4 separate regions of the Homo sapiens genome follow, and all the other regions are reported to be linked to region 2. Evidence: microRNA targets listed by miRTarBase, many of them from high-throughput screens and not tested one by one. Region 2 holds a microRNA gene; each other region holds the end of a gene's coding sequence.
Evidence for each region. Region 2 holds the annotated microRNA hsa-miR-3121-5p (UCCUUUGCCUAUUCUAUUUAAG, at 3,474-3,495, opposite strand). A microRNA usually pairs through its seed, bases 2 to 8, with sites in the 3' UTR of a target mRNA and lowers its output. Matches are read on the target gene's strand: a 7mer-m8 pairs with bases 2 to 8, a 7mer-A1 pairs with bases 2 to 7 and ends in A, and an 8mer does both.

Region 1 (7,149 bases), not on the chromosome of region 2:
TTTCCCAGCACCATTTATTAAATAGGGAATCCTTTCCCCATTGCTTGTTTTTCTCAGGTTTGTCAAAGATCAGATAGTTGTAGATATGCGGCGTTATTTCTGAGGGCTCTGTTCTGTTCCAGTGATCTATATCTCTGTTTTGGTACCAGTACCATGCTGTTTTGGTTACTGTAGCCTTGTAGTATAGTTTGAAGTCAGGTAGTGTGATGCCTCCAGCTTTGTTCTTTTGGCTTAGGATTGACTTGGCGATATGGGCTCTTTTTTGGTTCCATATGAACTTTAAAGTAGTTTTTTCCAATTCTGTGAAGAAAGGCATTGGTAGCTTGATGGGGATGGCACTGAATCTGTAAATTACCTTGGGCAGTATGGCCATTTTCACGATATTGATTCTTCCTACCCATGAGCATGGAATGTTCTTCCATTTGGTTGTATCCTCTTTTTTTTTTTTTTTTTGCAGAGACAGGTTTTCCTTATATTACCCAGGCTAGTCTTGAACTCCTGGGCTCAAGCAATCCCCCTACCTCGGCCTCCCAAAGTGCTGGGATTACAGGCGTGATCCATCCACCATGCCAGTGCCCTGCTCCATGTCTCTCTTAACATGGAAACCATCATGAGTTTTCCTGAAGTATTAGGTTAGACGTTGACAACCCAGCTGTTTCTGTTCACTATGGTTGTGAGAAGCCCAGTTATTTAAAAGGCCATTAAGATTGAAAATAGATTTAGAGGTGTAGGTACAGACTGGGAAGGGGCATGAAGGAAATTTCAGGGGTGCTGGAAATGTCCTAAACATGGTGGTGACATGGGTGTTAACATACATAAAAATTAATTAAGCTGTACATTTAAAATTAGTCCCCTTTATGCATTTTACTCTACATGTGTTATCCTTGCAAAGAAAAAGACTGACATCTTTGAGAGCAAGAGTTTTTGTCTTATTCACCTCTGTATAATTTCCAACATCGTGCTTTGCACATTGGACATTCAAAAAATGTTATACAAGATTGACTGCATCAATACTGGAGTGTTGTGTGAGGGTTAGGTGCTGAGGCTGAGAAGTGTATGAGGGAGACCTGAGATTAAACCTGCCACATAAAGTGGAGAGAAGTAGCAAGGTCAGGGCTATGAAATAATCCCAAAAACTTTAGAATTTCTACATAATACAGTTGACACTACTATTCTCAATAGAGCTGCTTTCAGTCTCAAAGGGCTGTGGTATGTGTGCGTGTGTGTGTGGTAAAAAAGGGAAGCAGCAGGTCAAGGAAGAGAAGTGTTATTTCACAAGACTTAAGTAATCTTGTCATTGCTGCTTTTCCTGCCAGAAAATCATTACCTTTCCCTTTAAAAATCATTTCCATATACATTTTACTAACTCCCATGTCAATTTCACCCTTCCTTTTCTAATAATAGCTACTATTTATTCAGCACCAACTAGTATACTAGGGACTATGCTGGGTGCTGGAGTCCCAATGACGAAAGAGACAAACACTTAAATAAGAGGATGTCCGTAATACAGGCATGTACAAAGCTTCACCTCAAGTAAGGAGGCAGGACCAACCTTCATACAGAAGCCCAGCCTTCAAGGATGAGTGTTCTAGTTCCAGAAGAGCAGAGGCAGAGTGGGTAACATGCTAAAGGTATGGAGGCCTGAGAGAATTGTTTTTTTTCAAGGAATGCTAGCTATGTAATAAGGAATAGGGAGAACATGGTATTTTAACTGGAACATATGGAAAAGATTATTACTAGGGAAAAAAGAATGAAGGCCTTTACTAAGAAGGCAGCAGGAATTAAGAAGGGACATATTCAAGAGGAGACAAGCTCAAAAGGACTTGATGATTAAGTATGAGTGTGATGGAGAAAAAGAATACAATACTTTGAGGTTCCTAGTAAGTATCTTGGGTGGCGTGGTAAATGGTAATGCCATTATGGAAGGTAAAGAAGAGAGCGAGCCAGTTTATCAGGACATTCAGGTAGCATGAAAGAAAACTGAACCTGTGGGCTCTGATAAGATCATCGGAGGGCGGGTAGGGGGAAATAGCACCAACTGAGGGGAGGGGTCAAGACTCATGGGAAATAAATCTCAGGGAGGAATCTTGACTACCACAGAAAACCCAGAGGAGTATGCAAAGAGGGAAGTATAGGAGGTTATACATAGGTCAAGCAGTGTGAGGACTGAAAAAAAGACACTAGATTTGACAAGGCGGGCAGTCTCCGCTCATCTTTCCCAGAATATCCTAAGAAAATTGTAGGAGCTAAAGACAGAGATGGCTGGGCTAAGGAATAACTGGGAAGGGAGAAAATGGAGGCTGGAGGCATTTCAGAAGTCAGGATGCAAATGCATCCAAGTGGTAGGAAAGGTTTTATTTGGTCTTTCCTTTTAGGCTAATGAAGACATTTACCATGTTTATACAAAGAAAGGAATCACTAAGTGGTGATGTAAGGATAAAGTAAACACAGCCTGGCAGAGAAAGGAGGAGGGATCCAGTGCACAAGTAGAGTTCAGAAAAAGTGCCTCAGATACTAAAAGCAGGTGTTAAAAGAGCAGGTGAAAGCATGAATATATGTAGAGACAGAGGAGAAACGTTACCAAATTCATTTTAAATTAAAGTCTATACAGGGTCAAAAAATAGCACCTGAAAAATGAAAAATCCATTGGGAATATTCTACACACAGAGGTAGCAGAACCTTAATTCTGCTTACACCGCAAAACTAGCCAACACTTATTTAGTTTTAAAAAAATATTCTAAACACAGATGTAGCAGAACCTTAATTCGGCTTATACTTACTTATACTAAGTAGCCAACGCTTAATTAGTTTAAAGAAAAAAACCCATGCAGCTATTCTAACAGTCAGTGTTTAAACTGATTGGTGCTAATTAATCCAAAACTATGAGATTCTGTATTAAAAAAAAAAAAAATCTCCCCACCTATCATCCATCATCATCTAGAGACATCCTGGGTTCACATTTTGAACAGAAAAGAAATTGTGCCTTCAGGTTTTTCTTTCTCCCTGGTAAGTTCTATTTATGTGCTTATGATTTTAAAAATTTATTTTAATTTATATTTTTAAGTAAAAAAATTACTTTCTACCTTTTTTATTGAATTCTATGATTCTTGTGAGATTTCATAATGGCTGCTCATGAAAAATTTATAATACAGAAATATTTCCTTTTGAAATAATAATTTCTGAGGAATATTAATGGTACTCAGGGGTCTTTCTTTTTTTTTCTTCCTGAACCATCCTGAGCCCAAGTCTCACTTTGCTGTCTTCCCTATTTCCCAGTATCATTTAACTGAGAATTTTTGTTTTTATGGCATTCACACATTTTTCTATTTGACCGAAACGACTAGTTTATGTAAAGTTATGGTTTGGTTAGACATCGTGTAAGTAAAATGACAGACTGTTTCTTGCTAGGAAGATATTCAACATTTAGGGCAGGTTCTAGTTGTAAAACAAACTAGGTAAAGTTAATTACTTAGCATAATGATAATTCCATCATAATTAAGATTACTGCCCAACTTTAATCTGTAATAATAAAATATAATGATCTAATTAACCCTTACAATGTCTTTGGGAAATAAAAGGGCAAAATAAATAATTATATATCAAATGAAAACTCCAAAATATAACTACGTTTTGAAGCAAAGTGAAAGGTTTCTAAATGCCAGAATTACCAAAAGTCACGAAACACAAACAGCAAATAAAGTGTAATGTTACAGCTATAACAACTCACATAAAGTATGCAGAAACAACTAGGAAACACTGAGAATTTTAAATCTGATTAAGGAGCTAGTAGAGATTACCCAGCATTCAGCTCACCATTTGAAACCAGCCAAATGAATATGTGACAAGTCTCTTTTAAAAATCTTGCACTTTGAAAAGGAAATGTGTTATAAGTGTTACTCAATCTGGAAGTTGCAATGAGCTTGACAATGTCAAAACATGGATTTAGAGATTCTCAATGAACCTCTAATGTTTTACCTTCAATAAAATCTCTTTTCATAAAAGGAAAAAAAAGATTACCCAAATTCTACCATCATTTTGCCACTGGGATTATTTTCCTTTCAAACAATTTGGATGACCATTATTATTCCTGGACTTGAATGTACACGATTCTCATAAACCCAATGTCACACTAAGTAAAACTGCAAAAATCATATACGTCTTATAATTAAAGTTATTATTTCTTTCAAAAACCAAAGTTCTATTAGTAATACTTTTAATGTTCAATAAACATTTACTGAGTGTTTAATATAAGGTAGGCATTTTTCTACAAATTGGAGATTCAACAATAAAGCACAAAAATTTCTGTCCTTAGAAAGTTTATATTTCGGTATGGGAAAACAAACAGTAAATGAATAAATACTTAGTAAAGTCAGATCGTGGTGAGTGCTATGGACATACATAAAGCAGGGGGGAAAGGGAATGCTGATGTATATATTCAAGGACGACCTGCTCAGGTAACAGTGGAGTGACACCTGAAGGATGTAAGAGTGAACTATGCATTTTTCTGGGAGAACAACATTCAAGGCAGAGGGAATACCAAGTACAGACTGTCCAAGGCAAGTGCATACTTGATGCTTTGAGGAGCACTGAGGCCAAGGTGCCTGGAGCTGCATGAGGAGGTGGGATATGGTGGTACCTGAGGTAGGACAGGGAGTCTAGGCCTGCAACTTTTAAGGACTTTGACTGCTCTGAGTGAGATGAGAAGCCAATGAATGGTTTTGAGCAGATGAATGGTATGAGTTGACTTGTTTTAAAAATAATCATTCTGGCTACTTTATGGGGAACAGACTGTAGGAATGCAAGGATATAAGAAGAATTTTTGTAGATGACAGCTTCAATCCAGGGAAGAGATGATGGTGGCTTGGAATAGGGCGTTAATAGTAGAGGTCAAAAGAGGTGGTCAGCTTTAGATATATTGTGAAGGTAGGGTCTACCAGATTTGCTAATGGATTGGATATGGGTGCTAAAAGAAGAATCAAGGATGACTTCAGGGTTTTTGGCCTGAGCAACCAGAAGTATGGCATTGCCATTTACTGAGTTGGAGAAGACTGAAGGAGAAGCAAGTTTGGGAGGGAAGACCAAGAATTCAGTTTTGGATATGCTGAGTGTGAGCTTTAATTAGATTTCTAGATAGAGATGTCAAATAGGCAGTTTTATGAGATCACAGGGAGTGAGGACATCTAAGAAAGGCGAATGGTCCAAGGAAACTTCTTCCCCTTAAAAAATGAGTGTACAGCTAAAATCATAAGCAACTTTAAAGGCATAGATTGAAATAGTATAAAATGTAGAAAACCTCCCATACCTTGAAAGCTCACTTCAACTGCCTTCTGCCCAACTTAACATTTTAAAGACATTTTGATATACATACAAATCTAAGCTCCAAGAAGCCTAAGAAAACCCCTTAGGGGTTACCTTGGCCCATGGGCCTCAAAAATAAAAAATTAAGTTTTTCAATGGCATAGCCATTACAAGTTTTATCTTAAATTTGCTTGAAATTTAAGAATACATTAAAACATTATAAAAAGAAATATAAAAAAGTGTGTTTTTTTTGTTTTTTTTTTTTTGAGACAGAGTCTCACTCTGTCACCCAGGCTGGAGTGCGGTGGTGTGATCTCAGCTCACTGCAACCTCTGCTTCCTGGGTTCAAACAATTATTGTGCCTCAGCCTCCCAAGTAGCTGACAGTACAGGCACGTACCACCATGCTCAGCTAATTTTTGTATTTTTAGTAGAGACGGGGTTTCACCATGTTGGCCAGGCTGGTCTCGAATTCCTGGTCTCAAGTGATCCACCCGCCTTGGCCTCCCAAAGTGCTAGGATTACAGGTGTGAGCCCCTGCGCCTGGCCTCTGAGTTGTCTTTTTATGACAGCTTCCAATTTTGTATTCGCTATGTCCAAAGTTGTATGCTTCTTCCCTGAAAAAAGTTTTTTATATTCTCAAATACAGTATTATATTCTCAGTCAGTATTATATATACAGTATAAATATAGTATTATATCCCCAGTTAGACAAATACAAAATGCTGCATCTATATAGGTGGTATCAAGATTTAAAAGGATTTAAATCTTGCAAGTTATACTTGAAAAAATTCATATGGAAAGGAGTCACTCAATTGCTCATTTTGCATACTGCCAATACCTGAATACTGACTATCTTGAACAAAACCATGACTGTTTGGATTAGTACTGTTTGATGGTCCCGACTCATTTATCATGCTGTTATCTGCACAACTGAAGTCAGATCCCTCAAATGCATCTGATTGTGAAACAAAAACAGTAGTATTGGAATTGGCGCCTGCTGACATACTGGAAGAGGACATCTGATGGAGCTGTCTCAAGTCTCTTGGGTCTAACACTGAATTACATGAGGGGTTTTCAAGATTCATGCTCAGAAGTCTTGGATTATCAGTCTCTCCCATGCTGTCACTGCTGGTTGTCATCATATTCACAGAACAATTAGACAGCATGTTGGGATCAGAAATACCATATAAATCTGCTGATGGCATGGATGACGCTTCCATTCCGACTATGTCATCGGCATTGTTGTAAATGCAAGCATTAGAAGCATTTAAATCATTCCCAACAGGTATTCTCAGGAATGGTGGGATACCTTGCGAATTAGAAGGAAGTGTCCTTGTTGAAAAACTACTCAGTGGGTTTGTATTGCCTGAGCGTGGGGTGGGGTGGGCCACTGATGACCAGCTTGAAGAAGGCAGAGGTGCCATTGAGGCATGATGTGACAATCCACTTGAGATGGGCCCAGGTGAGGGATAGTAGGATTCTGCTTGACTTGAAACCCCTGTAGGCATTTCTCTCACAACTGCATCATGAGAAAACAAGTTTGGTTCTGTGGGAGGAAAAATTTATTTTACGAAATTAAAATGAACAAAATTATAAAAAGCATTTCTAAATTAAAATTGCATAAGCACACAAATATATATAAAGAAAAATGTCAAGGAAACCAATGTAACATTTCAAATAAAAAAATGTAAAAAGCACTAAAATTATTACACGAATCCAAAATGAAATTCTGTAACGTATATACCATTTTACAAATACAGGTAAAATGATTTTGGCAAGTTACTTTGGCATATGTAATTTCACTTCAATTAAATATGAAAATCTAGTTTCTGAGGCTCTATAAAGGTATT
Region 2 (7,167 bases):
AACAAAATCTGAGAATGAATTGGAATTTACAAGCTCAGGCTCAGCCAACATTGAGACCACCAAAGTCATGGGCAGTCTGTAAACCAAGTACAGATGGACTGAGTACGGCCTGACGTTTACAGAGAAATGGAACACCGACAATACACTAGGCACCGAGATTACCGTGGAAGGTCAGCTTGCACATGATCTGAAGCTTACCTTCAATTCATCCTTCTCACCTAACACTGGGGAAAAAAAAGCTAAAATCAAGACAGGGTACAAGCAGAAGCACATTAACCTGGGCTGCGACACGGATTTCAACATCGCTGGCCTTTCCATCTGGGGTACTCTGGTGCTGGGTTACGAGGGCTGGCTGGCCGGCTACCAGATGCATTTTTTTTTTGAGACGGAGTCTTGCTCTGTCGCCCAGGTTGGAGTGCAGTGGCAGGATCTCAGCTCACTGCAAGCTCCGTCTCCTGGTTTCACGCCATTCTCCTGCCTCAGCCTCCCAAGTAACTGGGACTACAGGCGCCCGCCACCACGCCTGGCTAATTTTTTTTTTTTTTTTTTTAGTAGAGACGGGGTTTCACCGTTAGCCAGGATGGTCTCAATCTCCTGACCTCGTGATCCGCCCGCCTTGGCCTCCCAAAGTGCTGGGATTACAGGCATGAGCGACCATGCCCAGCCTGGATGAATTTTGAGACTGCAAAGTCCCGAGTAACCCAGAGCAACTTTGCAGTTGGCTACAAGACTTATGAATTCCAGCTTCACACTAATATGAATGACGGGACAGAGTTTGGCAGCTCCATTTACCAGAAGGTGAACAAGAAGTTAGAGACCGCTGTCAATCTCGCCTGGACAGCAGGAAACAGTAACACGCACTTCAGAATAGCAGCCAAGTATCAGATTGACTCTGACAGCTGCTTCTCGGCTAAAGTGAATAACTCCAGCCTGATGGGTTTAGGATACACTCAGACCCTAAAACCAGGTATCAAATTGACACTGTCAGCTCTTCTGGATGGCAAGAACGTCAATGGTGGTGGCCACAAGCTTGGTTTAGGCCTGGAATTTCAAGCATAAATGAATACTGTACAATTGTTTAATTTTAAACTATTTTGCAGCATAGCTACCTTCAGAATTTACTGTATCGTTTAATGTTGTACGTCTGGAATGCAAGTATTGCTAAATATGTTAGACCTCCAGGTTAAAGATGATTCAGCTTTAAGATGTTACCCTTTCAGAGGTACAGAAGAAAACCATTTCCAAAAAAGGTCCTTTCAGTGGTAGACTTGGGGGTAACTTGGTGGCCCCTTTGAGATATCAGGTTTCTTTTTTATCTAGAAATGGCTGCAAGTGGAAGCTGATAATATGTAGGCACTTTGTAAATTCATATTGAGTAAATGAAAGAAATTGTGATTTCCTGAGAATTGAACCTTGTTTATCTAACCCTAATTGATGAGAAGCTCACTACTTGATGGTGTGTACAAACTCACCTGAATGGGATTTTTTTTAGACATATCTTCATGACCTGTTCCCACCCCAGTTCATCGTCACCTCTTTTACACCAAAACGTCTGCAGAGTGGTGTGGTCACGATTCTTTTGTGCCATTTTGGGGTGGAGAGGGTGGACGTGATAAAGCCAATAATTCAGGACTTATTCCTTCTTGCGTTGTGTTTTTTTGCCCTTGCACCAGAGTATGAAATAGCTTCCAGGAGCTCCACCTATAAGCTTAGAAGTGTCTGTATGATTGTAATCACATGGTGACAACACTCAGAATCTAAATTGGACTTCTGTTGTATTCTCACCACTCAATTTGTTTTTTAGCAGTTTAATGGGTACATTTTAGAGTCTTCCATTTTGTGTGGAATTAGATCCTCCCCTTCAAATGCTGTAATTAACATCACTTTAAAAAAACCTGAATAAAATATTGAAACCTCAAAAAACAAAAACAAAAACAAAACTACCTCAAAATAATAAAGGCCATATATGAAAAGGCCACAGTTAACAACATACTCAGTGGTGAAAAACTGAAAGCTTTCCTTCTAAGATCAGGAACAAGGCAAGGATATCTATTCTCATCACTTCTATTCAAGATGGTATCCAGGCCAATGTTAATGCTATCATATCTCCTTAAAGGATATAAAATCAAGCTATAACCCCATCAGCTTGGGTACATGTTCTCAAGACCTTCTGAGGCTGTGTCATGGGTCATGGTCTTCACATTTGGTGCAGAATAAATCTCTTCAAATACTTTGCAGTTTGGCTTTTTTCCCTCGACATCTTCATCTGTATCCTTTGTAACATCCTTTATAATAAACTGGCAAATGTGTTTCCCTGAGTTCTGTAAGCCACTCCAGAACTCAGTTGAACCCAAAGAGGGGGTCATGGGAACCACAACTTGAAGCCAGTTGGTAAGAAATTCTGGAGACCGGGGCTTGTGACTGGTCAAGGGGTGGGAGGCAGTCCTGGGGACTGAGTCCTCAACCTGTGGAATCTGACACTATCTCTAGGCACCTAGTGTCAGAACTGATTAGGAGGATACCCAGTTGGTGTCTGCTGCAGAACTGCTCACATAATGTTGGGGAGAAATCCCCACGTATTTGGTCACAGAAGTCTTCTGTTGTTGTAGTGGTATGAGAGCAGAGGAAAAACACAGTTTGAAAGTTTTTCCTAAAATGGCATCCAAATTGGAAAGGAAGAGGTAAAGTTATCTGTTCACAGACAACAAGATTTTATATGTAAAAAAATCCTAAAGATTCCACCCAATCTGTTATTCAGCAAAGTTGCAGGATACAAAATCGTCACACAAAAATCAGGTTAGGTCTGACAGAGACAGACAATAAATGAATAAGTTTTCCAATATTAAAACCTAAGGAGTATTATGAAGAAAAAAAACAGGTCCAGGAACAAGGTTATAATTTGGAATAAGATGGTTAGGGAAAGCCTTCTAGAGAAGGCCCTTTGAATAAAGACAAAGGAAGTGAAGAAGTGAGTCTTGCAGGTATCTGGAGTAGATTGTTCCAGCCATAGGAAAAAGCCAGTGCAAAGGCCCTATGATGAGGGTATGCACAGAATGTTAGAGTAGGGGTCCCCAACCCCTGGGCTGCAGGCCAGTAGCAATACATGGCCTGTCAGGAACCTGGCCGCACAGCAGGAGATGAGTGGCGGTTGAGCAAGCATTACCACCTGAGCTCCACCTCCTGTGAGATCAGCAATAGCATTAGAGTCTCACAGGACTGTGAAGACTATTGTGAACTGCACATGTGAGGGGTCTAGGTTACGCACTCCTTATGAGAATCTAATGCCTGATGATCTGAAGTCAAATGGTTTAATCCTGAAACCATCCCCCTCCAACACTGGCCCCCTAATCCCTGCTGCAGAAAAATGGTCTTCCACTAAACCAGTCCCTGGTGCCAAAAAGGGTGGGGACTGCTGTGTTAGAGAACTTAAAATGTTTCTGTCCTTTGCCTACTCTATTTAAGGTACAGGGTGTCTTAAATAGAATAGGCAAAGGACATAACCATTTAAGAAGCAATAAGACAAGGTTGTTCATGAGACAATCATAGCTTCTATTGGCGCCATTCATTGACTCTCTTAAAGTGAAATAGACAATTGGGAAGAGATAGCTATGGTCCACTTGGTAATTATTTGCTGTGAAATAAAGACTACTAATTAAGAGTTACGTGGTAGTTCAAAAAAAATAAGTATAGTTCTTTTTTCTTTTTTATTTAGACTTCTTTTTAAAGCAAGTTTAGGTTTACAGAAAAATGAACAAAAAATAGGGTTATCTCATACCTCTCACATGTATACAACTCTCCCACCCACTGCCCCCATTACTAACATCTTGCATTGAGTGGCACATTTGTTACAGCTGATGAGCCTATATTAATACACTATTATTAATGAAAGTCCATAGTTTACATTAGGGTTCACTCTTGTATTGAACATTCTATGGGTTTGACAAACATATAATGACATGTACCCACCACTGCGGTACCATTCAGAATAGTTTCACTGCCCTAAAAATCCCGTACTCTACCTATTCACCCTTCCCTCCCTCCCCACTCTCCTCCATACTCTGAACCCACGGCAACTAGTGATCTTTTCACTGCTTTGTTTTACTCTTTCCAGAATGTCAAATGATTAGACTCATACAGTATGCAGCCTTTTCAGATTGGCTTCTTTCACTTAGCATTATGCATTTAAGGTTCCTCCATGTCTTTTCATGGTCTAATAGCTCATTTCTTTTTAAAAATTTTAAATTATTGTAAACATAAAATTTACCATTTTAACCATTTTTGGTATTTAACTCAGTAGTGTTAACTATATGCTCCTTCCCCTGGCCCAAAACACAAGATTTTTCTTGACTCTTTACCGTAAATGGGATTCTGGGAGATAAAACCTACCAAAGTGGAAGGCCCTACTAAGACTGGGGAGGGGCCGGGTGTGGGGGCTCACGCCTGTAATCCCAGCACTGGGGGAGGCCGAGGCGGGTGGATCACAAGGTCAGGAGATCGAGACCATCCTGGCTAACATGGTGAAACCCCGTCTCTACTAAAAATAAAACAACAACAAAATTAGCTGGGCATGGTGGTGGGCGCCTGTAGTCCCAGTTACTCAGGAGGCTGAGGCAGGAGAATGGTGGAACTCAGGAGGCAGAACTTGCAGTGAGCCAAGATTGCGCTACTGCACTCCAGCCTGGGCGACACAGCGAGACTCCGTCTCAAAAAAAAAAAAAATACTGGGGAGGAGTTTTTGACTCCCTAGTCCACACTCAGCCTCAAGCAATTCATCCATTACCATTGAAGTGTTTCTACCAGTTTATGGCCCAAGCATCTTCTGTTATCTTGGTTATGATTCTCTGTATTCACCTGTCTCTCCAGTTTTGGGGATGGCAGTTTGAACTGGTACCTCAATCTCTGATGGATCTAGAACAGTCTTTGATTTTCAGTTTGGTCAGATTACTGTTATTGTTAAGGAGAGGAGTGATAACTTGCAGGTTCTTCACATGTTGAGGCTGAAACTGGAAGTTCAGTGATCTTTTAAAGAGATTTTAAAATTTAAAAAAAGTCTTTAAATTTACCCATATATTTAGCACTTCCAGGACTCTTCATTCCTTTATGGAGGTCCAAATTTCCATCTTATATAATTTTCCTTTCATGTGAAGTTCCTTTAAAATTTACTATAGTTCAGTTCAGTTGGCAATGAATTACCTGCTTTTGTTTATTTGGAAAAAGTTTTTATTTATTTATTTTTATTTTTTAGATGAAGTCTCACTCTGTGGCCCAGGCTGGAGTGCAGTGGTGCAATCTCAGCTCACTACAACCTCTGCCTCCTGGGTTCAAGTGATTCTCCTGCTTCAGTCTCCAGAGTAGCTGGGATTACAGATGCCCACCATGACACCCGACTAATTTTTGCATTTTTAGTAGAGATGGGGTTGCAATGTGTTGTTCAGCCTGGTCTCGAACTCCTGACCTCAAGTGATCTGCCCATCTCAGCCTCCCAAAGTATTGGGATTACAGGCATGAGCCACCAGATCCAGCCTTGAAAAGTCTTTATTTCACGTTTACTTCTTTTTGTATTGACATGAGATTCACATAAAATTAACCAGTTTAACATGTACAATTGAATGACATTTAATACATTCACAATATTGTGCAACCAACTGCATCTAGTTCCACAACATATTTGTTATTCCCCCCAAAAAGCCTTGAACCCACTAAGCAGTCACTCCCCATTCCCCTCTCCCCCAAACCTTTAGCCTTGAACCCACCAAGCAGTCACTCCCCATTCCCCTCTCCCCCAAACCTTTAGCCTTGAACCCACTAAGCAGTCACTCCCCATTCCCCTCTCCCCCAAAACCTTGGCAACACCAATCTGCTTTCTGTCTCTATGGATTTAACCATTCTGGATATTTCATATAAATTGAATCATACACTATGTAATCTTTCATGTCTGGCCTCTCACTTGGTTTAATGTTTTCAAGGCTCATCTATATTATAGCATGTATCGGTTCTTCATTCCTTTTTATGATTAATAGTCTATTATATGTATACAACAATGCCAAATTTTGCTTATCCACTCATCAGTTAATGGACATTTGGGTTGTTTGCACTTTTGGCTATTGTGAATACTGCTGCTATGATCATTTGTATACAGGTATTTGAGTACCAAATTACCCAGCAATTCCACTCCTGTATATACCCAAAAGAATTGGTAATTCTATTTTTAACTTTTTGAGGAACCACCAAACTGTCTTTTATGGCAGCTGCACCATTGTACAGTCTTAGCAGCAATCTAAGACAGTTCCAATGTCTCTACATCCCTGCCAAAACTTGTTATTATCTTTTTTATTGCGGACACCCTACTGGGTATGAAGTGGCCCTGTTGAAAATCAACTGACCATAAACTTGAGAGTTCATTTCTGCACTCTCAATTCTTTTCCATATGTCTATCCTTATACCAGTACCATACTGTTTTAATTACTGTAGCTTTATAGTAAATTTTGAAATTGCAAAGTTTGAATCCACTAGTTTTGCTCTTTTTCAATACTTTGACTATTTGGGGCCCTTTGCAATTCCATATAAATCAGATTGACTTGGACAGCGCTGCCATCTAAATAAAATTAAATCTTCCAATCCATGAACACAAGATGAATTTCCATTAACTTAGGTCTTCTTTAATTTCTTTCGGCAATATAGTTTTCAGTCTAAAATCTTTCACATCCTTGGTTAAAATTCCCAGGTTTTTGTTTTTAATTCTTTTAAAGGCTATTGTAAATGGAATTTTTTTGTTTGTTTCCATTTCAGAGTATCCGCTGATGGTCTAAAGAACACAATGATTTCTGCATGCTGATCTTATGATCTTATATCTTGTAACTTTGCTGAATTAACATACTAACTCTAGCGGTGTCTTTGTGGATTCTCTGGATTTTCTATATACTGTGTAGGATCATGTCACCGATTAACATTTTTATTTCCTCCTTTCCAATTTGGATGCTGTTTCTTTATTTTTCTTGTCTAATTGCTCTGGCTAGAATTTATGTATACAATGTTGAACAGGAGTGGTGAAAGCAAGCATCCTTGTCTTATTCCTGATCTACCTCTGGGTTTTTCATAAATACCCATTATGTTAAGTAAAGTTTACCTTCATTTTTGAAAGCTATTATAACTTAACTGAGTATAGAA
Region 3 (7,000 bases), not on the chromosome of region 2:
ATTTTGGTGGATAAAGTCAAATGAGTTATACCCAGTACTTCAAAAGCACAGCAGTGCCAGCTCATCCTCAAGTCACCTTTGGATTGAAATCTTCCACAATGCAGTTCATGACTTTGCTGTTGAATTATGAAGTGTTTGTGTCTGTGCTGTAAGGTGTTGGGATTCAGGAATAGAATCAAATTCCAGAGAAATACCACCACAACCACCGTCCCAGAACACCAGCAACCTTTCTCTTTCCTCAAGGAAGGCTTCTTTCCCTCATGGTTCATGTGCTTTGCTTCTTTTATAGTTTCTGATGCTCTGGTATTAAAGGGAATTCCTGCCGAGGGGCCTTTATATTCTGGATATCACATATGCTATAGGATAGGTTTTGTCCTTTCTGACTTTAAAAAGGATAAATTTAAAGACAATACTGTTGCTGCTGTTGCCAAGTCATAATCAGTATAATATGTCTTTAGGGGCAGTAATTCATTCCCAGTATTCTCACCAAAAAGAAACATTTAAGGTTATTCTTTTCAGGCCACTCCTGAAGATTGTTGTCACGTCATTTATTATCTTTATGATCAGTGTGTTCCTAAGCTATGATTGCTGTGTAGAGAGGCAGATTTTCTTACACATTGCTTAAAATATTGTTTGTATTTTTCAACTAGGTGGTTGTACTACAATCCCAGAGTCAGACCTAGAAGAAAGATCAGTAGAACAAGACTCTACAGAACTGTTTACCAACCACAGACATCTCACTGCAGAGACACCCAGGCCTGGTAAGAGACTGGATGGCCTTCACAAGCGTTAGTTAAGTCAGAAGCAGTGACAATCTGGTCAGTTTTTGTCATACCAGAGAGCATTCCGCAAAGCTGCTTGTTTTCCAATTTCTTCATTCTTCCCCTTAGCACTGGTGCAGCTGAATTTGATCCTTTGTGTATTCCTGTCACTATTCAGATCTTTTCTCTCTCTTTCTCTCTTACTCTCTTTTTTTCCAGAAGTTTCACCCCTCCAAGGAGTCTCGGAATAATTCAAGTAGAGTTGTTTGGTTGAGAGGAACATCCCCATCTCAAGGCCGAACCTGTGTGAACCTCATGCCAAGCACAGATATAGGGCTGGCGCAGGTGCTTCCTAAAGCTCACCTTCCTGGAGATGACATGCATAGAAAGAGGGGTTGGGACTTTTTACTTCACTAGGAGAACTTGTAACACCATGGGGAAGTCAGCTGAAACTTGTCTTGTTTTGCCAGGAAAGGAAGTAGTTGCCTTTGGTCATCCATCTGCTAATAGTCACAGAATACAGTGAAATGACATAGTTTTGGGTTAGATTTTATAATGCAAAGATTCAGATCCAAAATAATTTCATACCCCATTTTTTCACAGAATTCTTATATAGTAAATGTATCAAGTTTAATAAAGCATCTCATTGTCAAATAATATCTTGGATTTTATTTATAATTAGAGGGATTTATGAGTGATTGCTCTACATTATTTCTTCAAAGGAAAGGAAAGGAATTGAAGACTTTGCTACTCTCTGGTAAGACTTGAATGTGATTATTTTATAAATAAAAGAACCACTATGAAACTTTCATGTGATTTGTTCTATTAAGCTAAACGTGGAAGAAGGGAAGTTTTCTAGTATTGTATGAAAATGTTTAAATATTTTCAAGGAAGCTAGTACATTAACATCCCCTTTTCATTACCCCATTGGGTGGCACCTTTTAAAAATCCAGGTTATTAAAGGATTCACACTTTATTACAGTTAAAATTTAAGGTTTTTATGTGTAAGAAGTGAAAGAAACTTTGCTAATTTCAAGTTCGAATTACAGTTGTGAGATTGATTTATTTAAATAAAAATATGCCTTTGCCAGTTTTGGAATGCCTCTCAGTACAAAGGGGAAAGTTGTTCATGGTTTTTCTATATGTGAAATGTCAAAAAAAAACTGCAGAGGATGTATTACTTATTATTTGTAGCATCCTCTTTTAGGAGATGCAGATATATTATCAAAATAACATCATTATGATCATTTATAGCCATGATATGAGCATAAAATTTTACTGAAATTATCATTTTCTCTTTAAGTCCTTTATGTCAAAAAGTAAACCTATCAGTGAAATACAAAAACAATTATAGAGATGGTTCTGAAAGAGCAACAGAAGGCTGTGTGGATTCTATTGGATGCTGTCTTCTCAACGGCCTTGTGATTTATGCAGTGTTGAATTAGCTGGCATTATTTTTATGTTTTAGCAGGTGAACTATGGAAGCTATGTGGACATTACATGCATTAAGGGTTTTGTTGCTTTGGACTGGAAAATATATAACTTATGGTACGGCACAACTGCCAAGGCCTAATCAGAGTAAGATGCCTCTTGGAATAACCACTTTCCCCAGTGCTTAATGTCTGGAGCAGAGAGGGTCTCTATTCTGGCTAATGTGGGGAAAACGTTACCAACACCCTACTTCCCAGATTTTTTTGCCATCATTTCATTTTAATTGTAAACTCAGACCCCAACCCTTCACTTCAAGGCTCATTTTGAATCAATTATCTCCTTATCCCTACACCAAGAGCCACATTCGAGGTCCTCTTGGAATAAGTGGACAAGGCATCATGGACTGTACTTTTAGCCCTATTTTCTGGCCCTTTATTATATTCTCCTCGTTTTTGTCTTTTTATTTTGCTTCAACATTTAGTGTATTCTCTCTTGTTGTGTCTCTCTTATATGCCCCTTAAATCATTTCTATAATGGAATGGGGAAATGAATATAGTCCCACTGTCTCCTCTTAAGGTTCTCCTAATCACCTTTCTTGGCATTCATCTTCCGCTCTTTAGAATCCCTGGAGAACTCTATGCCTCTCTACATACCTCTCTCTTACTTATTGTATTTCAGAAGTCATGTTTTCCTTTCCTGGTAGGATAGATTTGCAAGCTCCTTGGACATAACTGTTCTTGGATTCTTTTCGCTGCTTGGTAAATATTTGTTGTATCAAAAGGTCAACTAATCTCCTAAAAGAAGTCAACAAGTCATAGAGAAATGGAGAAGCCGGTGATTTAGAACATTGTGGTCTAACCTTCCTAATTTAGTATTTCAGTTTATGCTGAGAGGAAGCTGATGTGACTGTCCTACTATTTTTTCTTAAATTTGGCTTTGAAGAGAGATTTGAATCTTGAAAATTCAATACTTAATGATTTTGTTCATGAGTACTTGGGTAACATTGATTTAAACACAGGATTCAGGTTTTAAATAAGATGAATAAAAATTCTAATACAACATTAGTTACAAAAATGAACATTTATTTAGAATAAGAAAAGAATAACAAGTCACATTTGTAAAAAGCTGATAATCACCATATATATCACAAAATCTATACAAATATTTATATTAACTACTTGATATACCTTTTTAACAATTCTGCATTTTCTTGCACACATTTCTTATTCACTTCTTTAATTATAGACAATTTGTAATTTCATTTTGTATACAGTGAATTAAAAGATAATTTTTTCTCTGAAATTGTTGATCAGACTTTTTTAAAAAAAATTACTGATAGTTTGCAAAAGCTTCTTTCAGCTTTACAACTCATCATTTGTAATGTCAGCCAGGTTTTTAGGATTATATTATCAGGGCATTTTAATTTTTCTTATGCAGTGATACATTTTAAATAGCCATGCAATTGATAGCTCTCTTTTTTTTTTTTTAGATAATTTCAACTTTTATTTTAAATTCAGGAGGTACACATGCAAGTTTCTTACCTGGGTATACTGGGTGATGCTGAGGTTTGGGGTACAATTGATTCCATTACCCAGGTACTAAGCATAGTACCCAATAGCTATTTTTTAACCTTTGGCCCCTCTCCCTACCTCTAGTAATCCCCAGTGTCTATTGTTGTTATCTTCAAGTCCATGAGTACCCATTGTTTAGTTCCCACTTATAAGTGAGAACATGTGGTATTTGGTTTTCTGTTCTGGCATTAATTTGCTTAGGATAATGGCCTCTAGCTACATTCATATTGCTGAAAAAGACATGATCTTTTTTATAACTGCATAGTATTCTGTGGTATACGTGTACCACATTTTCTTTATCCAGTCCACCATTGATGGGCACCTAGGTTGATTCCATGTCTTTACTATTGTGAATAGTGCTGCAATGAACGTATAAGTACCTATGCCTTTTGGTAGAATTATTTATTTTCTTTTGGATATATACTCAGTAGTGGGATGACTAGGTGGAATGGTAGTTCTAAGTTCTTTGAGAAATCTCCAAACTGCTGTCTACAGTGGCTGAACTAATTTACATTTCCAGCAAAAGTGTACAAGCATTTCCTTTTCCCCACAGCCTTGCCAGCTATTGTTTTTTGACTTGTTAATAATAGCCATTCTGACTGGTGTGAGAGGGTGTCTCATTGTGGCTTCAATTTGCATTTCTCTGGTGATTATTGATGTTGAACATCTTTTCATGTTTGTTGAATGCTTGCCTGTTCATGTCTTTTGCACATTTTTAAATGGGATTATTTGTTTTTTGCTTGTTTATTTGTTTAGGTTCCTTATAGATTGTGGATATTAGACCTTTGTTGGGTGCATAGTTTGCACATATTTTCTCCTATTCAATGGGTTGTCTTTTTACTCTGTTGATAGTGTCTTTTATGATGCAGAAGCTCTTTAGTTAATTAGGTCCTACTTATCAATTTTTGTTTTTGTTGCATTTGCTTTTGAGGACTTACTCATAAGTTGTTTCCTAAGACCAATGTCCAGAATGATGTTTCCTAGGTTTTCTTCCAGTATTCTTATAGCTTGAGGTCTTACATTTAAATCTTTTATCCATTTTGAGTTAATTTTTGTATATAATGACAGATAGGGGTCCAGTTTTATTTTTCTTTCTATGACTAGTTACATATTCTAGCACCATTTATTGAACAGGGATCCCTTTCCCCATTGCTTATTTTTGTTGACTTTGTTGAGGATCAAATGGCTGTAGGCGTGTGACTTTATTGCTGGGTTCACTATTTTGTTCCATTGGTCTTTGTGGAAATTGACAACTCATTAGCCAGTTTATCATCAAAATCCTCATTGAAATGATCTTCATTACCACTAGTATTTTATTTCAAATCAGCAAGAAGATATTTAAATATTTTTCGAATATGTTCATGCGATTTACTCTTCTTCATTAGCTAGATTATTAGACAATCCAAAGTCTGCTTATTCTCTTTCAAATGTATCATCTCATCTTAATGAGTTAATTTTGGTATGATTTGAAAATGTTTTTGTTATAATTTGCTTATTGACAGAATAACTTTTATCCATTTTATATAGGAGTTAATTGGGAAAGTTATTTTATGATGAGTTTGTAATTGTATACTCTGAATTATTAAATATATTCTTAACAGGCAAGAAATTCTCCTTTGACTTGGGGTCCATGAAACTGGAATCTTACTGCTTCTGCTTTTACATGTCTGATGGTCAGGACGTCAGATTTCATATGTTTCAAATCATATTTTATCTCCAACACATTTATGCTTCTGGTGCCAGGCTGCATAGAACATGCTTATTTAGTGATACAGCGTTTTGCTCCACACCTTCCTCTTATGACACTGGCTTAAGTGAGAGCAGTGGGTGGTAATGATATTCCTGGAATCCATTCTTCCAGCAGAATAGCTATCAGTAATTTAACCATATACAGAGTTGTCTGTAATCCACATAAATATATCCAGTTAGCCCAAGTTGAATGTCTCCCCAACTCAACTTCCCTTTAGCCAGATTGTCAAGGCCACCACCCTTCCAATGCCTGCTACAAGGGGAAGACAGGCAGAAGAGACAGTAGTTTTCACCAATCATGATTAAAATGTCTTTTTTCAAATTGTGCAAAAGCATATGACCATACACCTGGGCAAGGAACTGCCCTGAAGTTTAAGCCTGATTAGCATCACAGTAAATCTGTTTATAACAGGAGAGAGTGAGCGAGCGAGATAGAGAGAGAGAATAGAAACTACACTTTAAATTATTGGTTTGTTAATTTCCTCCATGGTTGAAATAACTCCAAAATATGTATGGGATAGCACTATGAGTGTGGCGGGTGGAAAGGGCAGATTTTGTAAGTGTCTTATTTCTGTACTGCTATAACAGAATACCACAGACTGGGTAATTTATAAAGAATAGAAATTAATTTCTTAGCATTCTGGAAGCTGGGAAGTCCAAGATCAAGGCACCAGAAGGTTTGGTATCTGGTAAGGGTCCAACTCCCACTTCCAAGACGGCGCCTTGCATTCTCCAGAGGCAGGAAGCAATGCTGTTCTTTGCGTGGCAGAAGAGCCAAGAGAGGGCAAGAGAGAAAGAGGGAGTAGGGGGCAAAATTCAACTTTTGATAATGAACCCACTTTCAAGATAATGACATTAATCTCTTCATGAGGGCAGAGCCCCCATGGCCTAATCACCTCTTAACAGTCTCGCCTCTAAATACTGTTTCGACACGACTTTTGGAGGGAACAAACATTCAAACCATAACAGTAAGGAGGTATTCAAAATTCCCTTAAATATACTATAGGTCTTCTTAAGTTTGCCAGTGTGAGCCTCGACCTAGCTTTGGGCTCAAATGTAAGTACACTTTTACTTTTCATTTTTAGTAATTAATTGTTCCCTGAGAAATATCAGCAAACCTTTATGGACTAGCAAAACAGCAATTCTCTGTTCGCTGTCTTGGTTTTGTGGAGAGATGTTTCACCTTATACATTCAGGGACAGTTCTACTAATGCTTATTTCTTAGCAGCCACTCCATGAATTGTCCCAAAAGGGACTGAGTCAGTCTTGTATCTCAGTTGGCTGAAGGGTCGGTTTTAGATAAAAAGTTCACAGCAAGCTGTCAGATTGAAGAGGGCCCAGCCGCTTCATTGGCTCCAGGATCATCAGATTGGAGAAAGTGAAGAGGTTTAAAATGCTATTAAATTGATGAAATTCTGTTTAACAGGCTACAGTAATCATGTTTATTCCGTCTGGTACCAGTTCCAGAAAGAGAAGTTCATGATGTCA
Region 4 (7,167 bases), not on the chromosome of region 2:
AAACTCTGAAACGGTCTTCCACATAATTTGCTGGCATGCTGACCTTTCTTCAGGCAGCTCCTACAGCTGGCTGGATGTTTGAGGAAGACATGAAGAGCAGTGTGTGATGAGGCAAAGGCAGGAAGCCCCAGAGCCGGCCCAGCAAGCCGGGCTTGTGGAGGGGGATTGATTACACGCAGGCTCGCACACCACTCCTGGGCTGGCAAGGACAGGGAACAGGCGGTAGGAAGTGGCTTTTTAGGAGCAAGGTTGGTGCAGGTCCGTGGACACTGCTACCCTCCTGACCCTGGGATCTTTCTCTCGCAGTCATCTGCTCACATGCACCCTGCCCTAGCTGGGTGTTTGCAACTAACGTGATTGATGCAGAATGAGGAGAAAAGGGGAGGCCAAATGTCCACATTAGCCTGGGTCAGCAGGCCCCTGGGCACTAAAGAAAATAGGGATGGGTTTGAAAGCAGTTGATGGCAAATGAGACCTAATTTGAAGGGCAGGGACAGATATCACATACCGAAGCAAGCAGCCTTCCTCCTTGAAAAGATGGAATTTCTGAGGAATCAGTGTGTACCCGGGAAGGGCAGGCTGGCAGGTGGGAATGGGCGAAGGCTCTGAGGGATTCAAGGACTCTGTACTGGTGCTGCCCGTGGGGTGCTTCCTCCTGGGCCTGTGGGTGTCACACTGGCCACCCACAAGCAGATGCCGGGCACCAGTGCAGTGGGGCGGGAGGGTGTGGACGGTTCAGCACACTTCCAACCCCATTCCTGGGAAAAAGAATCCCTAATCCTGTAACAGCTCGTATTGGTGTTAAAACAAATCCTGCCACTGAAACTCATCCACTCTACTTGGAGGAGTCCTCCCTGGATCTTGACCCAGATTTTCATTGTATGATTGATTCTAACAGCTTTATTTATCTCATTCCCCACAGATTGGAGATCACAAATCAGAAGGGGACTCAAGGGCTGTTGGCAACAGGATGGGACTGGGGACAGCCCATGTGCCTGCCTCTGTCATGATAGGCACCCAGAAATATTTCCTGGATGGCCAGTGACCAAGTGGGGGATGTCATCTCTTCACACGCTTCCAGCACACACGTGTGATGAAGCAGGATCCAGGCTGTGGCGAGGCACCAGGATAGGACAAGCAAGGAGGCGGCTCCTCTCTGCCGGGAATCTGGCCTGCGGGAGGAAAGCAGCCTGACAGTGCCCACTCTGGTGGCCACTGTGACAAGGGCTCTGCAGCCCGGAGGAACTCTGGGAGGTTTGATGTGAAGAGGAGAGCCAGGGATGACCCTTTGGTGAGGTCTGAGGGATGAACTGGAAGACACCTATGATTTTAAATGAAAAACTTGCCTGAGAGAAGACACAGAAAAAAATACGAAGAGCTAGGTTCTGATGAGGAAATTACTTCTGTGGACCCAGCGCTTTTGACTTCATCTTCCTTCTGTTCCTGAACTTGGGAACGTGGAGAACAATGAGGAAAAAAGGGTGTCAAAGCACTCAGAAAAATTAAGTGTCGAATACGTGGAAATAGTAATAAAAAAACCACTTTTCATGTTATGTGACCATTTGTCTTGAAGACTACAAACGTAGACTGGCACTACCATACCTAACGCACGATCTCAGCCGTTTATTCTTCCCTGAGAAAACTGGGGCAAGAAGAGAAAGTAACATTTATTGAGAGCTTATCTTGTGCCAGGCACTATTAGGTGTTTTTATAAATGCTCAGGGAAGCCATTCTTCAGGTATGAATCTTACCAAGATGTATAAAGTCTGCAGGGCACTATGTTTGGGTATTAGGACTTGGATCTATTTCATGCACCTTTTTCTTTGCATATTTTGACTACATTTAGGGATCAATATGCAATCCCTCCTGTGACTAATTTATTGCTTACAAGCTCACCTCAGTCCAAGAGTAAATAAAATGGTGGATTAGTGAGGACTAGGTCAGCTTATTGCATAATATACATTAAGGCTAAATTTTAGTATCTTTATTAATATTTTACAGCATTAACACTTTTCAAAGAGAATATCCCTAGAAGGGTATGCTAAAGTTACATTATTACAAAGAGATGATCTGAAACTCTGAGAAAGTGAACATTCTTAGTAAAAGGTCTGTTTTAACAGGTAAAGTAGAAAAGGCAAGTTTAGATTTATAATTGCTCCCTTCTCTCGTTTCTTTTTACCACCAGGATAAAGGAAATGTCTATAATTCAAGGATAGGGAGAGTGCCAGGTCACCAAATGATTATATCTAATTCATTTAAACCAATCTGCCGGAAATCTTGCTTAGGTTAAGATCACAGGTGGCTTTTAAAACTAGCCAAACAAACATCTTTGAATCTATCTTGAGTTCCTATTTACTCAGCCTTGCTCATTCAGTTGAAAAGACGTGAACAAGGAAATCTTCTGTAAATTACACACCTTACCCTTAATGAAATGGTTTCATTCCATCACTTGCTCAATAGATCAGAAAAATTCCAGGAAACGTTTAACCTCCAAAACTTATTCTAAAGCATGAATAGGCCAGACGCCGTGGCTCACGTCTGCAATCCCAGCAGTTTGGGAGGTCGAGGCGGGCAGATCACTTGAGGTCAGGAGTTCGAGACCAGCCTGGCCAGCATGGTGAAACTCCATCTCTACTAAAAATACAAAAAAATTACCCAGGTGTGGTGGTGAATGCCTGTATTCCCAGCTACCTGGGAGGCTGAGGCAGGAGAATGGCTTGAACCCAGGAGGCGGAGGTTGCAGTGAGCCAAGATCGCACCACTGCACTCCAGCCTGGGCAACAGAGCAAGACTCTGTCTCAAAAAACGAATAAACATGAACTTAGACTAGTTCAGCAGGCATTCCTATACTTGATCCACATAAATTGGGTTAATCTCAGGCAAACCTCAAGTCTCTGTAATGAGGGAAATGTTTTTATCATGAGATCTACCAGTTTTTCCATACATGGATGTTTCATGTTTTAAATGTAGTAGAAACCTATTGGTTTGGATCTGTGTTATAAAATGGATTGGTACATATAAGGTAAGGCCTTTCTCTGCTAGTACTGACATGCGATTTCACAACTACAAGTAATGTGAAGCCTGCCTAGCATTAATGTTCCTGGTGCTCAACGCATCTCTTCAGTTCTCATCCCATCGTGATAACCTGTGAGTGCAAGTAACTCCAGCCACGCCGGCTGGCAGCAGGGAAGCTGCCCCTGTGACAGGCCAGGCATGCCCGCTCCTCCTGCCTGAAAACCGGGTGCCTGTGGTGAGGAGGGGTAAGGTGGCAGGTTCAATTCAGCTCGTGCTGCACTTAAAACTTTCTACCATAAGAAAAACACATACTGTTGACCCTTAAACAACACAGGGTTTGAACCTGTGGGTCCACTTATATACATGGAGCTTTTCCAACCAAACATGGTTTATTTGCTGAATGTGAAACCCACGTATACGGAGGGCTGACTTTTAGTGTACGCAGGTTCCGTAGGGCCAAGTGCCAGACTTGAGTATGCAGATTTTCGCATACGTGGGGTATCCTGGAACCAATGTCCTGTGTATATTGAAGGATGATTCAAATACTTCCCAAGAGGTTGTGTCAAAATTCAGTAAAATTTGAAGAACTGCAAAATATTTCTCCATTACAAATTCTAACATCCTACACAGAGACCACCACCCCAACTGTTTTTTAAAAAGCAAACATAAATACAACACTTGGTTTTGAACCTTTAATAAAAGTAAAAAATGAATGCAAAAAGAACACAATGTTGAAAACTTAGTATGAATGTGAACCTCACTAGATGTTCAAATCTGGTAGAGTGCAAATTTTGTTCATACTATTTTACATTTTTACAAACTCAAATCACTTTGGTTCATATATTTTCTATAAACTATTGGCAAAAAAATCCTCAAATTTACATTCTTTTGGCTACATTATTTCTAACAGATATAGATTTACTTCCGGTTTCGGAGAGAAAGACTTATTGTGTGTGCGTGATCAAGTCTGTTTTAAAGATTCACTCGCTGCTTTCATCTAATAACTTCTGGTTTTTCATAAAATGCTGACATCTTCATTGGAAATTTTTTTCATGTAACTGTTTTCATTTTCAGAAAATATATAAGGGGGTCATTCCAAAGTTCAGAATGATCCTATTTTTTTAAAAAACAAAATTCCTGTAAAACAAATTAACTCCAGGAACTTAAAATTTACTCCAAGACATTTCCCTCAAAACAAAGCAAAAAACCCCAGCAAAGATCGTTACATCACAAAACCAAACACAAAGACCAGCGCTCACAGGCAAGTTCCTCTAAGCTTCCATTCTGCTGACTGGTGGCTTCCATTTAAAAGGAGTCTTTTAATCAAGCCACTTTCACAGAATTTAAAACAAACCAAACACATGTAAATTGCAAAATACAAAAAGGTAAATTTATAAGTAAAAATGACCAAACCCACAAAACTGGAGTATTTCGAAGGTTGAGGGTTCAGTGGAGGGTGTAACACGAAAGGAACTTCACAACTGAAAGAAATCATTGCCGAGTTTCCTCCAGGCAGCACTGAAATGAATGGAGAACCTTCTCTCGAACATCTCACACGTTAAAAAAAATAAATATTTAAGAGATACAAGGCTCAGATTGGTTTTCATATACATTGCACTTGAAGTTTAAGACCCAATACTTGCAAATTAGGTCTGGTATGGTCTATGCCATTAAATGAATACATTGTGCTCACCAATATCATTGACTAGAAACACCACACGTTTAATGCAGTGCCATATGCACTCTCCTTTTTACAAGGCAATCACAGATTGCAAATTCCATAGGGCTGTGGCAAAAAACAGTCATCTCTATTCTGTAGTAACAAACAAACAATTTTGGCTCACTAAGATTGAAATACATGGCAGACAGGTATTCATTCTTAGATGACTATGGATTTCGAAATAAACTTCATAAACTGAGGTGAAAATTCCAATATATCGCAGTGTGGGAACCAAGACTTTTCATTGCCTTTTGCTCAGTAAGATTGTCTACACAAACTGCCACGGGAGGAATGACAAGCAGTTGACCCACTGGTGATACACACACGTGTGACCATGTAAACACGCCACTGCAGGACGGACGAGCGTGACCGTGAAGCGTGGCCACGCCGCGACCCCACTTAGAGTGTGACCTCTCTATAATCACTGCTGCTTTTCTTGTTTTGTTTTTTTTTTTAAACACAGCCCTATTTTTAAAAATCTTTTGGATAAATATTATTCCTATTACACCATACTTCATGTTTGTTAAGCACCATCAACCTACCTCCTTTGGGCACTGACACAAAACTGCGGGTTGGTAATTGAGTCTTAGTTCAAGGCTTTGAAATATGGCAACTTGTTTTAATCACATGAATGAAATCGAATACTTGGGAAGCTGCCACCTGCCTGAACCCACGTAGCCTGGGCAGAATGCTCCAGGGCACAGACAGGCGCCAGTGCGGGCAGTCAAGGGAAGACTTCAGGGTAAGTCATCATTCTCCACCTCCCTATTCTAGACTAGGTGAAGAGTTTTTTCCAGGAGTCATTTGTACAGTCAGCCCGATCTAAATAGATTACTTAAGAAAAAAGATAATCTTTGTCATAATCCACAGTCAGATTTTCTTCCAAAATCTTCCTTGCTCTCAGAATCGGTGGTTTTGAAGACTCAATCACTATGGGGCTTTTCAGGAACACCCTATGTGTAGAAAGGAAAAAAAAAAGGAAAGAGAAAATTAGCACTAAATGTATAAATATTTTAATTACCAATTAAGTAGGTCCTAACATGGGAAAGATTGACACTTTCTTTGACTGAAGCAACAAGATTGAGAGGTGGGACATGTGCAGAGAACTGGAGACCGAGGCCAGCTCTCCCAGCTCCCCTGCACCGTCTTCATGGCTCTGGCCCCGTGAGCCACAGCTCTCACCTGCAAAATTAGGATAATTCTCTGCCTCAGGTGAAATTACGCTGCTGAGGCCCTTATATAAAGCCTGTTATATAAGTGTAAGATATTGGTGAAAGTTTAACTAAATTAATATCTATATAAAGGAAACACCCAATTTTATCAAAGCATGGTGATGCTTAGGGTATGATAGGTTCCTGAAAGTTCTAACTGCAATTTAAGGGATTGAACCTTTATCTGAAGGGAGGTTTCTGCCACAAACCTTTATTAGTATCTGATGCCTGTGTTATAACCCACCTTACCAGCAGTTTGTTGAAACAGACATTGGAAATAGGTCATGCTTTGTAATACTGAAGCTCTGTGTGCCCTCAATTCACACAGAGCTTCACAGTTGGGAAATCCTTTCTACATGTTCTTCCTCATCTGACCCTCACAGAGCTTCTGAGAGGTAGACACTACAGTTACTACTATGACCAGGCACCTCAGGGTAAATTCTTAATGGAGAACAGTATTTCACTGATGAAGAAGCAAAGCCAGAGAGATTAAATGACCTTCCTGAGGCCACGGAGCTTCTGCTAAAGGGCAAAAGAGAAACCTCCATACAGAATTTTTTTCCCTCAGAATCGTGACTTCCCACGTTACTTAATTGCCCTCCACTCACTTTAAGAGGAAGGAGCTGAGCTCCTCACCTTCAGCAATGACGGAGATTACTCATCCAGAAAACAGCAAGAGCCTCTCATCTGAACAGACAGGTAAGAAAGTCATGAGTCTGGGTTGAGTCACCCAGGTATGCCAGTTACTACCCTGGGGACACACACAATAAGACCTTCTAGGAAACATACATGCTTTTAGGAATTGATCATGTGAAAGCACTGCCAATTTTTAGATATGAACACTGGGAGGGTTCTATACAAACTGCGGTGAGAAAACAAAAGAGCAAACTCTTGGCAGCAACCTGGAAAGAAAACTGGTCATCACATTTGACTCCCTGTTCACTAATGTGCTGATAAATAAATGGGAAGTGGACTTTTAGAATCCCTGGTCGACAGAGGCCACAGTGAGGCCTGGCAAAGACGCCAGAGACGAACGACAGCCAGCCCGGGCGGACCTGACACGTGGCACAGGGACTTCCAGCAGTGTTGCCTAATGGTGGCACATTGTAAATGGCAACCCAGACACCAACACAGGCTGCTGTAAACCTGCTTCCAGGGTGAAGGCAGGTGCGAGCTATGTGTTGAAAGGGCAGTGTGGTATGCTAATGAGAAGCACGGTGC

Region 1: miRTarBase lists REL as a target of hsa-miR-3121-5p. The part of its 3' UTR that is shown has no 7-base or 8-base seed match.
Region 3: the mRNA of BBS9 is a reported target of hsa-miR-3121-5p. Seed matches in the 3' UTR shown: 7mer-A1 at 1,479-1,485.
Region 4: miRTarBase lists INSIG1 as a target of hsa-miR-3121-5p. Seed matches in the 3' UTR shown: 7mer-A1 at 5,279-5,285.

Annotation. Positions count from the first base shown.
Region 1 is chr2:60,921,459-60,928,607 of GRCh38, reverse strand. REL (REL proto-oncogene, NF-kB subunit) reads right to left here. Exons shown (of 10, transcript NM_001291746.2): 10 at 1-6,845. The coding sequence ends at 6,073. Among named protein-coding and RNA genes, the nearest start is that of REL, 43 kb to the right of the region's middle.
Region 2 is chr1:180,434,885-180,442,051 of GRCh38, forward strand. It overlaps MIR3121 (microRNA 3121), which reads right to left and starts at 3,506; the gene lies at 3,430-3,506. All of the region lies in intron 3 of ACBD6 (acyl-CoA binding domain containing 6), which reads right to left. It also overlaps the pseudogene VDAC1P4.
Region 3 is chr7:33,604,215-33,611,214 of GRCh38, forward strand. It overlaps BBS9 (Bardet-Biedl syndrome 9), which reads left to right. Exons shown (of 23, transcript NM_198428.3): 22 at 651-761; 23 at 981-1,855. The coding sequence ends at 1,012. Among named protein-coding and RNA genes, the nearest start is that of FLJ20712, 120 kb to the right of the region's middle.
Region 4 is chr7:155,306,762-155,313,928 of GRCh38, reverse strand. INSIG1 (insulin induced gene 1) reads right to left here. Exons shown (of 6, transcript NM_005542.6): 6 at 3,694-5,688. The coding sequence ends at 5,659. It overlaps LOC105375592 (a long non-coding RNA gene), which reads left to right. Exons shown (of 3, transcript XR_007060612.1): 3 at 923-3,736. Among named protein-coding and RNA genes, the nearest start is that of INSIG1-DT, 11 kb to the right of the region's middle.